Linked DNA regions of Homo sapiens: all the other regions are reported to be linked to region 1. Evidence: microRNA targets listed by miRTarBase, many of them from high-throughput screens and not tested one by one. Region 1 holds a microRNA gene; each other region holds the end of a gene's coding sequence.

Region 1 (3,412 bases):
CCTACTGAAAACTTTTGCTCACTTCTCCAGCCAAGGAGTCAGACTGGAAGAAAGGAAAAAATAAATACTGGGAGTTGACTCAACTCTCTGCTTAAATACGGATTACCTCCTCCTCCTTCTCCTCCTCCACCTCCTCCACCCCTCCCCAACTTCCAACTTCATTAAGACTGTATCTCCCTGGCGAAAAAGTCGCTGGTGAGAATGGTGAAGAGGATGGGGAACCTACTTCAAAGGCGCAGGGCCCACCAGGCCATAAAAATTTATGGGGGATGTAATTATGTGGCTCTGAAAACAGGCGACCGTAAATCTCCGGCAATGGCGAGTTTATAGCGGGGACAATTGGCTTCCCCAGCTCAACCCCCCCCCAACCCATGCCTCCGAAGTCCCTTTGGTGTAAAGCTCCAGGGGTGGGAGGGGGAAGGGGTGCCCACGCACTCACCCGTGCTCACGTGAACTTTGCGCATCCAGGGGTAGACGACGGGCTCTTTGCACGCGGAGTGGGACGGGCTGGGGTGCAGGGGGTTCTGGGCGCAGGGAGGCGGCGGGGGGCTGCTGCTGACCGCCTCGCAGCGCTGGCCGGGCTCCGGGAGGAGGGCCCCGGCGGGTGGCGGCGCAGGAGCCCGAGGGGACAGACCGGGCGGTGGCGGGGGCGGCGGGGGTGGTGGCGGAGGCGGCGGGGGCCCAGGGTCCCGGCAGGCCGCGTAGCGCTGCACGGTGCACGCCGCGCGCCGCCCGAAGCCCGCCTCCGGCTGGAAGCTGCTCTCTCGCCTCTGGCCGCCGGCGTAGTACCCGGGCGAGTGGTCGCTGGGTAGGTAATCGCTCTGTGAATATTCCTCGCATGGAGGGAACTTGGGGTCGACATAGTTTGAGTTGATCAAAAAAGAACTCATAGCCATTAATTTCTGGGAATTGCCCACAAAATATACTAAAATTTATTCCGACCCCTGACTCGTTTTCCTGTTTCCGAAAGCCCTCCTACTTACTGTCAAGTGAACAAAGTTAGGCGCCCACGTGATCCTCCGAGCCAATGGCCGCCCCGCCTGCGATTCCCGGATAAGGAAATCTGCTCACCCGGACCCCACTCCAGCCAAAGAGGTTTATTTCCCCTTCTTCCCTTCCCCCTCCCCACCCACCCACCCAACACCAGGATTTACATAGGGCTCCTGCGGGGCGACCCCCTCCTTGCCTCGCTCTCTCCGGGATCAGAGAGAGAGCGAGAGAGAGAGCGCGCGCAGGTTGCGACTGGAGGGCCTGTTGGGGCGCTAGGCAGAGCGCAAACCCTAGATCCCTTAAGAAGTTGGGGCTCCCGGTGTAGCCCTCCTGTTCTGCCTCACCTCTGCCCAGCATTCTGTACCTTCCAAAGGCCCCAGTCTCCTCCCCTCGGCGGGAGGGAGCGCTAGCACCCTGCGTCTCTATGGGGAGTTAGGTTACTGGCGGGTTGGGGGCTCCGTCTCGAAAGGGGAACCCATACGGGGGCCAGAGCACAGAGCTTGGGGCTTTTCTCTGCAGCTGGATGGGGAAGGGTAGGGGTGAGAGAGGAGGCGTCCAGAGCTAGAGGGCGGGTGCGCAGAGGGACTTGTCAGAGATGAATGGAACCGCGGGCGGATCGATAGGAAATTCATGCACTAATTCGGGGAGACTTCGCCTTCCAAATCTCATTTAGCTGCACGGTTAGCTAGACTGTGTCCGTCAGTCCGTCTGTCCCCCTTCTCCTATCCACTCCTCCCTTTAACCCACACGGCCCAAGCCTGGAGAAACGACTTGGTTTCCCACACTATAGACAGAGCGCTGGGGTAAAAAAACCTGCAACTTTTGAGAGCAAAATTGATTAGCAATTTGCTAATTCCATAACCACCCGAGCAATACTAACCATGGGTCCGAGACGTTCTAATTGTCGCCGCCTCCGCGGCGAATAGAAATCTCACATCCCTTTGATACTGGGGATACAGCCATAGAGGTGACCCACACAGACAATAACACTCCTTGGTAATCGAGTATTTCCAGGTCATCTTGTTCTGAACTGAAACGGAAAGGCGGCCTCAGCATCCGTTTGTTAAACAAATTTCCTTTGCCTTCTTCGCACACTGAAGACAAGTCATTTTTTTTCGCAATTTCCAATAAAGCCTCCCTGAGCCCAGAATAGAAAATGGGTGCGTTTGGGACGAGAAGATAAATTTAAAACTTCAACAACAATAACATTAACCTCTTAAAGAGATGTGAAAAGGGACCAAGGCTCCCAGGGGCAGGCGTGGGGAGAGTTCAGGTAGATGATTTCTCCATCTCTAACCAGTTGAAGGAGGAAAAGATAGAGGAATAAAGAGGAAGGAGTCTTCGTGTGGCCAGTCACCAGACTGTCCTCATTCAGAAAAATACTACATATACATATATATATATTTTTTTCTTCTGGAAAAATAAGAGCGGAGTGTTTATGTCAACTACATATTCCCCTAGATACGAATTTGTGACCACAAAATTCCTTACACAAATTCGGATCTACAGGGTATATACAGAAGACAGACAGATCTTCTTGGCCCAGAAATTTTCCAGTTCTCCTACTTTCCGCGCCTTCTTCGTTTGGGGTGTGGTTTGAGTGCTTTGGTTTTATTTCGTTTTGTTCTAGTTTTGAGCTCTGGGAACAGAAAAAGGCAGTGCGAGTCTGTTCTTGGGATTACAAGGTTTTCAATTCTCCTCTTCTATTAGAATTTCAAGTAGCCAGTTCGCAAAGGGACGAGAACCTTGCCTCCGCCGCCGCCGCGCAACTCTCGGTGGCGCATGAATTATGAGATGTAAACATTAGCTAAGCACAAAAGGAGGAAGGGTCATTCTGAGGCTGCCACGAAGTCAGATTCAGGCCTTTCTGGGTGCCTTCGCGCCCCTCCCCTCCCCCCAGGACTTTTTTTTTTTTTTTTTTTTTAGAAAAAACAAAACCCCAATCGGCTCCTCCGTGCCCCTCCAAGCCTTTAGTTTGTGATCAAACGAATATCTAGATATTTTCCAAAGCGCCTCTCAGCGAAGGGAGGAGGAAGAGGCGGCTGGGTGTGAAGGTGGTGTAATAAAAGTCCTTTTGGAAAAATTCAGTGGTAAAAAGAGAGAGAAACAGCTGTAAAGAAAAATGCTGGGAGACCAAGCAGATGGGGCCCCGGATATTTAATGACGGGCAATTCCGTTTACAACCTGAGAAAAGATCAAAGGCGTTTCATTTCCGAATGAAGGGCAATGAGGAACCATAAAAGATGCAGCCAGATGATATAGGGCCCCTCCCAGCCTCTCACACATCCTGGGAGCCAGGAGAGAGGGTCTATCCCGGGGAGGTGTGGGGAGGAACCCCATTTCCCCACCTTCCTAGCCCCAGACGGGTCCTTTCCTTCTAAACACATATGAACTCGCCTAGCCACCTGCTTGGGTTGCTGGT
Region 2 (3,412 bases), not on the chromosome of region 1:
ACAGTGAGGCCTCACCTGTCCTGGGATCGCAGGCACACACAGCTCCCCACAACCACTACACACACACACACACACACACACACACGCATTTTAAATTCCCATGAAAAAATTAACTTTGCATATATGGGCCACATGCCCTTCCACATCCTGCTTAAAGCACCTCAACAGCCCCTAAGTTCCTGTTTTGTCAAAATGACTTGCCCTGGAACCGGGCACAGGCAAGGCTGCCCATGTGAGTGTGAGTCTGTTCACCCATCTCTGGTCCACAGCCCACACCAGGGCCTGGTCAGGCTGCCTCCCATCGTCTTCTGCGAGCAGGCCCAGCTGGCATACACAGGTGGCGACCTGGAATCAAGCAATCAAGCAGGTGCCTTCTCTCAGGTCACTCTTCCATACTTGCTGAGGAAAACCACAAAAGACCTCCAAGCTGCTTGAGTTAAAGTCTCCATTTATTTTTATTTTTTTACAAAAATCCAATGTAAGACCATTGTGCTCGTGACGAAAAGGGGTGGGGTGGATGGACGTGGCATGGATATCAAAGCTTCCCCCCACAAACTAGGAGCTCCCCACTCTGTCCGGCGCAGCTCCCAGAAAGATCCCATCCTTCCGGACAGGACCCCAGCTGGTGAGCCCTGGCCTGAGGCACAGTCCACACGGAGGAGCACTGCCCAGGGAGCCAGCGCTCACAGTGGCCTGCAGAGCCCTGGGACGGTGTTATGGTAAGACAGCCCAAACCGGAGCAGCAAGCCGGCCACCCAGAGAACGAGGCGCTCCTGCACCCTGCGAGCCAGGACAAGGTGGCCAGGGGCGGCCCACAGACAGCCAAGGAGACCCGGGGTCTGTGGCGCCGCTTTCCCATCTCAAGCGAGTCACAGGTCGGCGGCTTTCCCGTGGTGAGAAGCACCTGACCAGTGACACTGTGGCCACCTTGCTGCCTCTCGCTGAGGAGGGCGTGCCCCTCAGAGCCTGTCTGCAGTCCTTCAAGCCAGTGTTCCTTTCAGGGTCAAGGAGGGCTGTCCTTGTTGGAAGCACCGGCACCACAGCCCTCCCTGCGGCATGTTTTGGTGTCAGACCACTCAGCCCTTCTTAGATCCACCAGTGACATTCGGGGCCCGACAACCTGGCTCCACTAAAGGGAGAGGCCCTGGCTCCACCACACAGACGGCCCCAGCTCACTGAGTCCCGCTAAAGGGGGTCCCACCACACAGACGGCCCCGGCTCACCGAGTCCCACTGAAGTCAGTATGTGAGTTCCTCACATTAAAAGAAACCAGATGAAATAGCAGCCACAATATAGCGCCACACACCACACTCTTTGGCTCCCCGAGGGAAGAAGGCTACTGCTAAAAGGAATACAAGTCAGGAGTCAGGTAGAGGGCAACTAGAAAGTTCTGAGGAAGGGCGTCTGACCCCCACTGCTGGGAACATAACCACACTGCCTCAGCAGGGGAGCTACAGGCTGATGCTGGGGTTGGGGGCGGGGAACCTTTGGAAACACAGTCCTGGCGGCGGCCGGGTCCGGTTTGCCAATGGGGAGAGTTCCCTTAAGCCGAGCTAGCCCTACAGGTGGGTGGGAGCTACACAAAAGAGCCCAGCTTCAAAACAGTACTTGAAGAGGACCCACGTGGTACAGGCAGGTCAGAGGAGAACGTATTCCAAGAAATAGAAGCACAGGATGCCAAGGTCTAGGGAAGACGGAACTGGCTTAAGGCATGTGCATGACCAGGACAAACCTGAGCTTTTGTTCAGTTGCTAGAAAACTTCCAGAGTCAACTCCACTTCCAGAAAGTAGGGTTCAAGAAACACGTCATGGGCTAAATCCCTGACAAATGCCACTCACACCCTCCTAGGTTCCCCTACTGCCACCGTGACCCAAAAAATTAGCTTATTTCAGTTTCAGCCCAGGGAACAGAATCCTAAGCAGGGAGTGGAAAGTGGTAACTCGGGTTGTGAATGCCCGTTAGATTCCAAGGCTGGATGTGAGCTTACACAGCAAATCACAGCCTCCCATTGTTCTAGCACATACCAAACCTCGGGGAGTCCTACAGCCAAGCTGACATTAGGGGTCCAAAAACCACAGATAACACAGGATGGGGCTCCAGACAGAGGCGGGGGGAAGGTGAATTTCACCAAGGAATTATCCCAAGGCAGGCGCCTTGCTGTAAAACTTCCCGGCCAGCCGGGTGGGTTCCTCGAAGGACACTGGCTTGCTCTACACTAGGGAGAGGAGGCTGACCTGCAAACCACTTCAGACCACAGCAGATGTGCACGCTGCTGATCTCCTGTCCAATCCAAGAAAGAGCACTTCAGAAACGCCTGAGGCCCACAGCACGTGTGTTTCAACAGAAGAGCAGGATAGAAAGAGCCATCTGGGAGTGGCGTCTTCAGCCCCTATTCTTTCTCACTCTTTGCTTCCTCATTCTCTCTCAAACAAGAGAGAAATGGGAGAGCAGGGATAAGTACGGAGGCAAGCCTGGCCTAAAGATAAATCCTCAAAAATCGCTGGCCCCAGCAGCAGGAAGCTGAACAGCCCACCAGGGTCAGGCGCTCCCAGGGATTCACTGGGAAGAGAATGTGAGTTACAGGTTGCTGACTGGCAACAGAAAGGGTAAGGAAGAGACCTTGTCCAGGCCCGCAAGAGGGCCAAGTTCATCCCTTTCTGGTTGCTGCACACAGATGGCGCTGGGGAGGATGGGAGATGATCTTTAAGGATAAGCCAGTGACACAAGGCCAGGACCCATCTCCGCCAGAATACAGAACAAAGGAGCCTGCGCGGTCCCTCCCTTAGAAAGGCAAAACTCACACTCCCCCAGCCAAAAATATATATGTATGCAAGTGTGTGCATGTATTTATATACACACACATATATATAAATAAGCCTTGAATGGCAAATCTGAAACTTTCTCTTTTTAAATAATCATAATAGTTGTTATTGAATGTAAAAACCACGAACCAGCTGTCCTGGGCGTACGAACGGTGTGAGTGACTCTGCAGAGTCGCCACAGTCCTCAGTGTAAGCTATCAGTCAGTGCCCTGTGTGGGGAACCCCGGGGACTCCGCCCAGGGCTCCAGGCCCAGTGTGGCTGACTTCAAGATAAAGGCAGCGGTTTCCTTCCACTCCTCCTGCTGCCCCTTCCAGCAGAGGCTCTGGGCCACCCACCAGCAGATGTGCCCAAGGTCCTGCAATGCCTAGGAACCTTGGGAGCCATCTTCCTCCCTCTGCTCATCCTCTTCCCCAGACCGTGCGCTGCCCCTAGATGAACTTGAAGCACTTGGTCTTGTCATGGGGCAGGCGTGTCTTGAAGAGCACAGAATCCACCCTGAACTGCGTGTACAGGAGGGGCATGTAGCCGTACACCTTCACGAAGAAGTTGATGCACTTGTGCCGCTCGTGGAAGTGGGAGTCATCATGA
Region 3 (3,412 bases), not on the chromosome of region 1:
AGTGGCAGTGGGTCTGATTGGCCCTTCAGGGTGCCAGAAGCTGGGCCCACTAGAGGGAGGCTAGGTAAGTACAGATGAGGGTCACCTCTCTAGCCACTGCTTGAGCTCGGAGCTGGGCTTCAGACCCCAAGAGAAGCTGGATGAAGGAGGCTGGCTGGGGTTGACCTGTCCACCTTGGTATCTCTCCTTGAGCCTCAGCTAGTGCTTCCTGCCTGTACTTGACTTTCTGACTTGGTCTTCTTTTGTGTCTCTTTGCCCTTCTGACAGGTGACAATCCTGCTGTACCTCGCAGAAGTGATGGTTCGGCTGACTTGGCACCAGGCCCTGGATCCTGACAACCACTGCATCCCCTACCTTACAGGGCTGGGGGACCTGCTCGGTACTGGCCTCCTGGCACTCTGCTTTTTCACTGACTGGCTACTGAAGAGCAAGGCAGAGCTGGGTGGCATCTCAGAACTGGCATCTGGACCTCCCTAACTGGGCCCCGCTGGTCCCATTTGCTCATTAGAATTTCCTCTCACATCAGTGGGATACAGAATTCAGTTTCTCCCTTGCCAGGTCCTTGGGATGGTTGACCCCTGCCTCTGCAGTAGCCTTTTGTGAGTCTGCTAAGGTAGCTCTCACACACCTCGGCTCTGGGGTTGATACCTGAGCCTGCAATAGAGCCCTGAAATCAAGAGCATGGCTTGAGTGTGTGAATATGATGTGTGCACATGCTTAATGAGCGTGCAAGTGTGCACACGTTTGTGGAGAGGAGGGTGTTCTGGCCTGAGAAGGTAAAGAAGAGGCATGTCCAGTATGCTTTGCAGGGTGTGTTTGCTCTTTTCCATGCCCATGCAACCCAGATTGGGGTGGAGCAGGAAGGAGCTCTTTTCTGTTCCCAAGCCTCAGAACTCTTGAGCTGTGGCTTACTTGCTGTCTTCACCAGGTTCAAGCTCCGTGGGCCACACTGCTGCTGTGCCAAGAAGGTGTACAGCCTCCCCAGGATGGGGCCTCATACAACCCTTCATCTGCACTCAACATTTAATCGTGTCCTTGCTGTCTTTTTATTTTCCTTTTTGTTTGTTAGCAAAAACCTCTATTTAGATTTCAATAATCAGAGAAGTGTAAAATAAAACAGATTATATTGTACTTGACCCTTTATGTCTTTAAAGATAGTTAATGCAACCCTGAGGCTTGGGGTCTATAAATAACAAAAGCATCTGGCATTTCTCTAGTGCAGTGTTTCTCAAAGTGGCCTTCAGCCTAGAAACGTCAGTGTCACCAGGAAACTTGTTAGAAGTGCAAATTATTATCCCTCACCCCCTGGCCTGACTAGCCAAATCAGCATTTCTTGGGAGTAGAGCCAGCTATATGGGTTCCACAAGCCCTCCAGGTTTCTCATACACACCCACGTTTGAGAACTACTACTCGAGAACATCATCTTTAAAAAATGTATGATCATTTCCTGTCTCTTATTAACTCATCAGGACAACTGTAGCCATGCTTGGACTTGAAGATTATTATCTTCATGTGGTAAAACAGACATCTATTCATGTATTCAACAAATGTTGATATAGAACCTCTTGTTTTAATGTTCTAGAAGGAAAGACATGGTACATTAACTGGAATAATTGAGCAGACTTTAAGGAAGGCACAGTTTATAGGTGCATGGGGACCAGAAGAAGGGGTGAAGCATCCTGGGGCCAGGCACTACCAGACATTCACCTGTCCTGGAGAATAGTTGGGATTGTGGTTTCCTGAGATGCATGGGGATCTCTAAGAAAGAGACACAGCTACATCAGCTTGTGGCCTGGCAGAGAAAGCCAGGGAAATAAATATCCCAATCTCATTCTCTGTCCACCCTATTATCTCCTGCCAGTGTCTCCCATTGGCCAAACCCAACCAGAAGTTCAATGACTGGGGAGCCGCTTGACGATCCACAGAGGTTTCAGCCTCCTGGGGCACAGAGCCAGGGGAGGCTGGGGATAGATCTGGAGAGGCAACTGGAGAATATTCAGCACAACTATATGCCAAGCTCCATGCTAGATACTGGGGACACACTTGTGGGCAAATCACTCATCATCCCTGGTTCAAGTCCCTACTAGGAGAGATAGTCAACATCACACAAGTATTGAAAGTCCAGCTCTGATAAGTCTTGCAAAAGACAAGCATGTGATGCTACTGAAGCATGTAATGAGAGCTAAGATCTATCAAGCATCTTCTGTGTGTCTGGTTGTATCCTAAACATTTGACGTGTAAACTCTGATAACCTCACATTAAGTGATGCAGTACATACCACTCCCATTTGTAGATGACTGAAGCATTGTGAGGCTTCTTAACGTTACCAAAGCCCTATGGCTAGTGAGTGGTGGACTGATTTGAACAGACATTTGGGCTCAGACCCAAGCGATGTGTGTGCCAAAGAGGTTTGACCAACACCGTGTTACAAGATCCTAGAGGTGTTGCTTTTCCAGCCAGAAACCTCTGTGGCCAGTGGTGCCTTTGCCTGAGTTTTGCTCAGGCCCACTGGGCTTGTTCTGTCCACTCGGCCTGGCAGGCTGCGCTCAGCTCACGCTACCAGCCTGGGATCCCACACCTGCCAAGGGTGAGCCAGGCATGGAGTAATGAGGGGTATGTGAGCGAGTGAGCATGAGGTCCAACCACTGCACACAGCCAGGCACCCCAGCTGCTGTGGCAGGGCAGGCAGCTCCAGGCACTGGCACAGGCGCCGGCTCCATGCAAGGCTGCAACTGGATCAGATGTACCACAAGCAGCTTCCACTGCAGTTACCCACATCTGGACAAGGGGAACATGGTGGTGCCCAGAAGCTTGGAGACACCAGGTACCGCAGAGCCCCAAAGAGGGTGTCACAGCTCTGGCCTGGGGAGCTCTAAGGTCTGGGCTCCCAGAAGGGCTACAGCTCTTCTCTCCTTCTCATCGCCTGCCACATGGCAAGTGGGGGGCATGTTTCAGCCCTGTATTACAGCTGTTTGAGTCTTGCCATTCAGCGTGTCCCGAGTTTTTGTCCTGCCTCCAGGAGGAATGAGGTATGCAGACAACTGGAGGGTGAGCAAGACAGAGGGGAGCTTCACCAAGTGACAAAACAGCTCTCAGGAGACCCGGAGTGGGTAGCTGTTTTCCACAGGCAGGTCGTCCCAACAAGTGTGAGTCTGCCTGAGTCCAGGGTTTTTAATGGGCACAGAAGGGAGGAAGTGCATGCTGATTGGTCCATGAATGGCCATGGGTGGGCCTGGAAAAAGCACCATAAGTTCTCACTCCGGGCTGCCAACTCCACCCTGAACTGGCAGCCCGGTCCCCAGGCTTCAGGCCATTCCTGGATCGAAGTGGGGGTTTCAACAAGACCCCACCCCTTTCTGCCCAGGAACCTGTCTGCCTCCTGCTACCGACCTGCTGTCCATGGTATGGTGCC
Region 4 (3,412 bases), not on the chromosome of region 1:
CAGTATGGGTGGGGGGATGAAGGGGTGCGGTTGGGGCCCCAAGCTGGGTAGCAGGAGGTTGTCAGATACCCTGTTCAGGGCCAAGGTGGGGGTGGAGTGGGGTGGTAAAGGGAAGGGGAGCCAGGGATGGGGACCTGGATCCCACATCGCTCCCTGCTCATCCCCCCACCCCCCTTAGACGAAGAGAGTGAGGAGGAGGACAACGAGGTAGTGACCCGCGCATCACTCAAGATCCGTTCCCAGAAATTAATCGAAAGTCACAAGAAGCACCGTCGCTCTCGGAGGTCCTAGACTCGTCCTGACACCCACCAGGCGGCCCCCTTCGGAGCCCCCGATCCCTCCGGGTCTAGCGCAGGCCCCACGGGGCCCCTTCAGGGGCTGAACGCGGCCCGGACCGGGAACGGAGGCGGCCAGCGGCGCCCGGAGGGGAGGAAGGGGCCGGGCCAGACGTTCCCACAGTAAATCTCCCCAGCTGGGTCCGCCCCGGCCTCAGAGTTGCGCAATAAATGTTACCGACCATGCCCCTGGGTATTCATCTGTTTTTGACCCTGCACCACCCAAGAGACGGCTGTCCCTGAAAACCCAGGGCCACAGACTGCCTCCTCCAACCTGGGTCATGATGACTCCCATCAGCTAGTGACGCAGATGGAGCTTAAAAATGGGAGATGGCCCGATGTAGTGGTTTTATGCCTGTAATCCCAGTATTTTGGGAGGCTGAGTTGGGAGGATCACTTGAGTCCAGGAGCTCCAGGCTGCAGTGAGCTATGATCGTGCTACTGCACTCCAGCCTGGGCCACAGAGCCAGACCCTGTCTCAATAAATAAAATAAGGGCGGGGTGCAGTGGCTCATTCATACCTATATTCCCAGCACTTTGGGAGGCTGAGCTGGGTGTGTCGCTTGAGCCCAGGGGTTCCAGACTAGCCTGGGCAACATGGTGAAAACCAGTTTTTACCAAAAAAAAAAAAAAAAAAAAAAAAAAAAAAAAAAAAGCTGAGCATGGTGGCATATGCCTGTAGTCCCAGCTACTTGGGAGACTGAGGCAGGAGAATGGATTGAACCCAGGAGGCGGAGATTGCAGTGAGCCAAGATCAAGCCACTGCACTGCAGCCTTGGCAACAGGAGTGAGACCCTGTCTCTAAAAAATAATAAGGCTGGGCGCCGTGGTTCATGCCTGTAATCCCAGCATTTTGGGAGGCTGAGGTGGGCGAATCTCTTGAGGCCAGGAGTTTGAGACCAGCCTGGCAAGTATGGCAAAACCCCGCCTCTACAAAAAATACAAAAATTAGCTGAGCATGGTGGCGGCACCTGTAATCCTAGCTACTTGGGAGGCTGAGGCACAAGAATCCTTTGAATCTGGGAGGCGGAGGTTGCAGTGAGTTAAGATCAAGCCACTGTACTCCAGCATGGGTGACAGAACGAGACTCCATCTCAAAATAATAGCAATAATAATAAAAAGTGGAAGATGCCCCCACACTTGATCAAGCTAGCCCCTTCCACTGGAGGACAGAGGACTCTGGTCTGGGGACACACACATGCCCCCACACAGGAGCTCCCCCACATCTGGGGATACAAAAAAGACCCCTTGGGGACAGATATGTCCTTTCTTCTGGGGACAGATTGATAGGCACCCAGCGGAAGAGCCAGGACCTCTCCTGGGCTGGCGCTGGGTCCGGCTGGAGGCACCCAGAGGCTGGGTCCGGCCTGCCCTGCCCCGCCCCGCCCCAGCAGCTCGGCCGCTCCGCCCCTCTGGCCTCAGCGCCCGGCCACTGCCCGCCGCCCGCCACCCGCCACCCGCCGGCCCTTCCGCCTCACTCAGCGGCGCCACTGAGAGGGACGGGCGCCGGCCATGGAGCGCACAGCAGGCAAAGAGCTGGCCCTGGTAAGGGGACAAGGGATCCCCGGACCCCGCATCCCTGGTGACCCGCAGGTCCAGAAACTCCAAGCGCCCGCCCGTCGGACGGTATCTGCTCCCAATCTGAACTTGCCCTGGAGTCCCCTCCTGGGGACTCGCGGCCCTTGACCCAGTGAAGCGACTGGTTCCTCTTAGGGATGGGGGCGCGAGTCTCTGAGCGCAGTCGGCAGAAAGAGCTAGAGACAGGTTCTATTAGACTGGGCCCTGGGACATCCCCAAATGCCACCCCATGTCCTCAGGACCTGGGAGGAGGGGACCCGCAGCGAGGAGGGGACTAGCCTGGGACCCCAGCCCTAGTCTCGCAGCTTCTGGCCGGGAAGGGGCGTGGGGATGCAGCAGGAGGACTCGGCCCGAGTCCGAGCGGCCAAGGAGGCTGAGGCCCCAGGACCTGTGCCCCTTTGGTGCCCTGAGTCCGCCTGTGCGTCCAGGCACCGCTGCAGGACTGGGGTGAAGAGACCGAGGACGGCGCGGTGTACAGTGTCTCCCTGCGGCGGCAGCGCAGTCAGCGCAGGAGCCCGGCGGAGGGCCCCGGGGGCAGCCAGGTGAGGAGGGGGTTTGGTGGGTGGCGCGGGGCCGGAAGCGACCAGTTGAGGGCGGAGCTGGAGAGCCGAGCACAGGCCGCCAGGTGCAGTGGGCGGAAGGAAGGGAGGGGCTCGGAGGCGACCAGATGAGGCGACCAGGTAGAAAGGGGACTGGGGGCGGCCAGGTAAGTGGGGGGAGATCCAGGGAATGGGGTGGGGCCAGGCGATGGCCGCGCAGTTCCCGAGAGGAGCCTAGGGACAACTTGGTAAGGACAGAACTGGACGGCAGAGTTGGGAAAGGCAGGTTTAGAGGGCCGGGGCTGGAAGGTGGAATGGGGTTGGTTTAGAAGTGGCTAGGTGAGGGCGGATGGGGCAGCCAGTGAAGCGCGACAGGAGGGCTGAGGGAAGCCCTGGGTGGAAAAGAGTGTGTGGGGCGGGGGCGGGGGGGTGGGGGGAGGGGACGGGAGGGGGAGGGGACGGGAGAGGGAGTAGGGGACAGGGCATGGGAGAGGGAGGGTTTCCAGGGCAAGTTGCAGGAGCTATTTGTGGATGGGGAGGAACAATAACTTCAAGCGGGCAGGGAGTGGGGCACACACCTATAATCCCTGCGCTTCGAGAGACCAAGGCAGAAGGCCAGGAATTGGAGACCAGCCTGGACAACACAGCAAGATTCTCTCTAATAAAAATAAAAATTAAAAAACTAGCTGTGCGTGATGATGCCCAGCAGTGGTCCCAGCTACTCAGGAGGCTGGGGCAGAGGGACCGCTTGAGTCTAGGACTTGGAGGCTGCAGTGAGCTATGATTGTGCCACTGCACCCCAGCCTGGGCAACAAAACAAGACCTGTTTCTAAAAAAAACAAACCAAAACAATAACTCCAAGAAGCCGGGAGACAGAGGAATCACATGAAAGAATGGTGCTACAGGCGGGGCGAGGTGGCTCACGCCTGTAATCCCAGCACTTTGGGAGGCCGAGGCAAG

Evidence for each region. Region 1 holds the annotated microRNA hsa-miR-10a-5p (UACCCUGUAGAUCCGAAUUUGUG, at 2,481-2,503, opposite strand). A microRNA usually pairs through its seed, bases 2 to 8, with sites in the 3' UTR of a target mRNA and lowers its output. Matches are read on the target gene's strand: a 7mer-m8 pairs with bases 2 to 8, a 7mer-A1 pairs with bases 2 to 7 and ends in A, and an 8mer does both.
Region 2: the mRNA of EXTL3 is a reported target of hsa-miR-10a-5p. The part of its 3' UTR that is shown has no 7-base or 8-base seed match.
Region 3: miRTarBase lists SLC41A3 as a target of hsa-miR-10a-5p. The part of its 3' UTR that is shown has no 7-base or 8-base seed match.
Region 4: the mRNA of ODAD3 is a reported target of hsa-miR-10a-5p. The part of its 3' UTR that is shown has no 7-base or 8-base seed match.

Annotation. Positions count from the first base shown.
Region 1 is chr17:48,577,424-48,580,835 of GRCh38, forward strand. It overlaps MIR10A (microRNA 10a), which reads right to left and starts at 2,524; the gene lies at 2,415-2,524. The region is part of intron 1 of HOXB3 (homeobox B3); the gene reads right to left. It overlaps HOXB4 (homeobox B4), which reads right to left and starts at 927. Exons shown (of 2, transcript NM_024015.5): 1 at 440-927. The coding sequence starts at 896. It overlaps HOXBLINC (HOXB associated long intergenic non-coding RNA), which reads right to left. Exons shown (of 1, transcript NR_183916.2): 1 at 2,894-3,412.
Region 2 is chr8:28,750,707-28,754,118 of GRCh38, reverse strand. It overlaps EXTL3 (exostosin like glycosyltransferase 3), which reads right to left. Exons shown (of 7, transcript NM_001440.4): 7 at 1-3,412. The coding sequence ends at 3,253. Among named protein-coding and RNA genes, the nearest start is that of EXTL3, 51 kb to the right of the region's middle. RefSeq lists enhancers at 459-1,401, 1,402-2,346.
Region 3 is chr3:126,004,081-126,007,492 of GRCh38, reverse strand. It overlaps SLC41A3 (solute carrier family 41 member 3), which reads left to right. Exons shown (of 11, transcript NM_017836.4): 11 at 268-1,136. The coding sequence ends at 477. Among named protein-coding and RNA genes, the nearest start is that of ROPN1B, 37 kb to the right of the region's middle.
Region 4 is chr19:11,417,714-11,421,125 of GRCh38, reverse strand. ODAD3 (outer dynein arm docking complex subunit 3) reads left to right here. Exons shown (of 13, transcript NM_145045.5): 13 at 179-521. The coding sequence ends at 291. RGL3 (ral guanine nucleotide dissociation stimulator like 3) reads left to right here and starts at 1,812. Exons shown (of 19, transcript NM_001035223.4): 1 at 1,812-1,880; 2 at 2,342-2,455. The coding sequence starts at 1,848.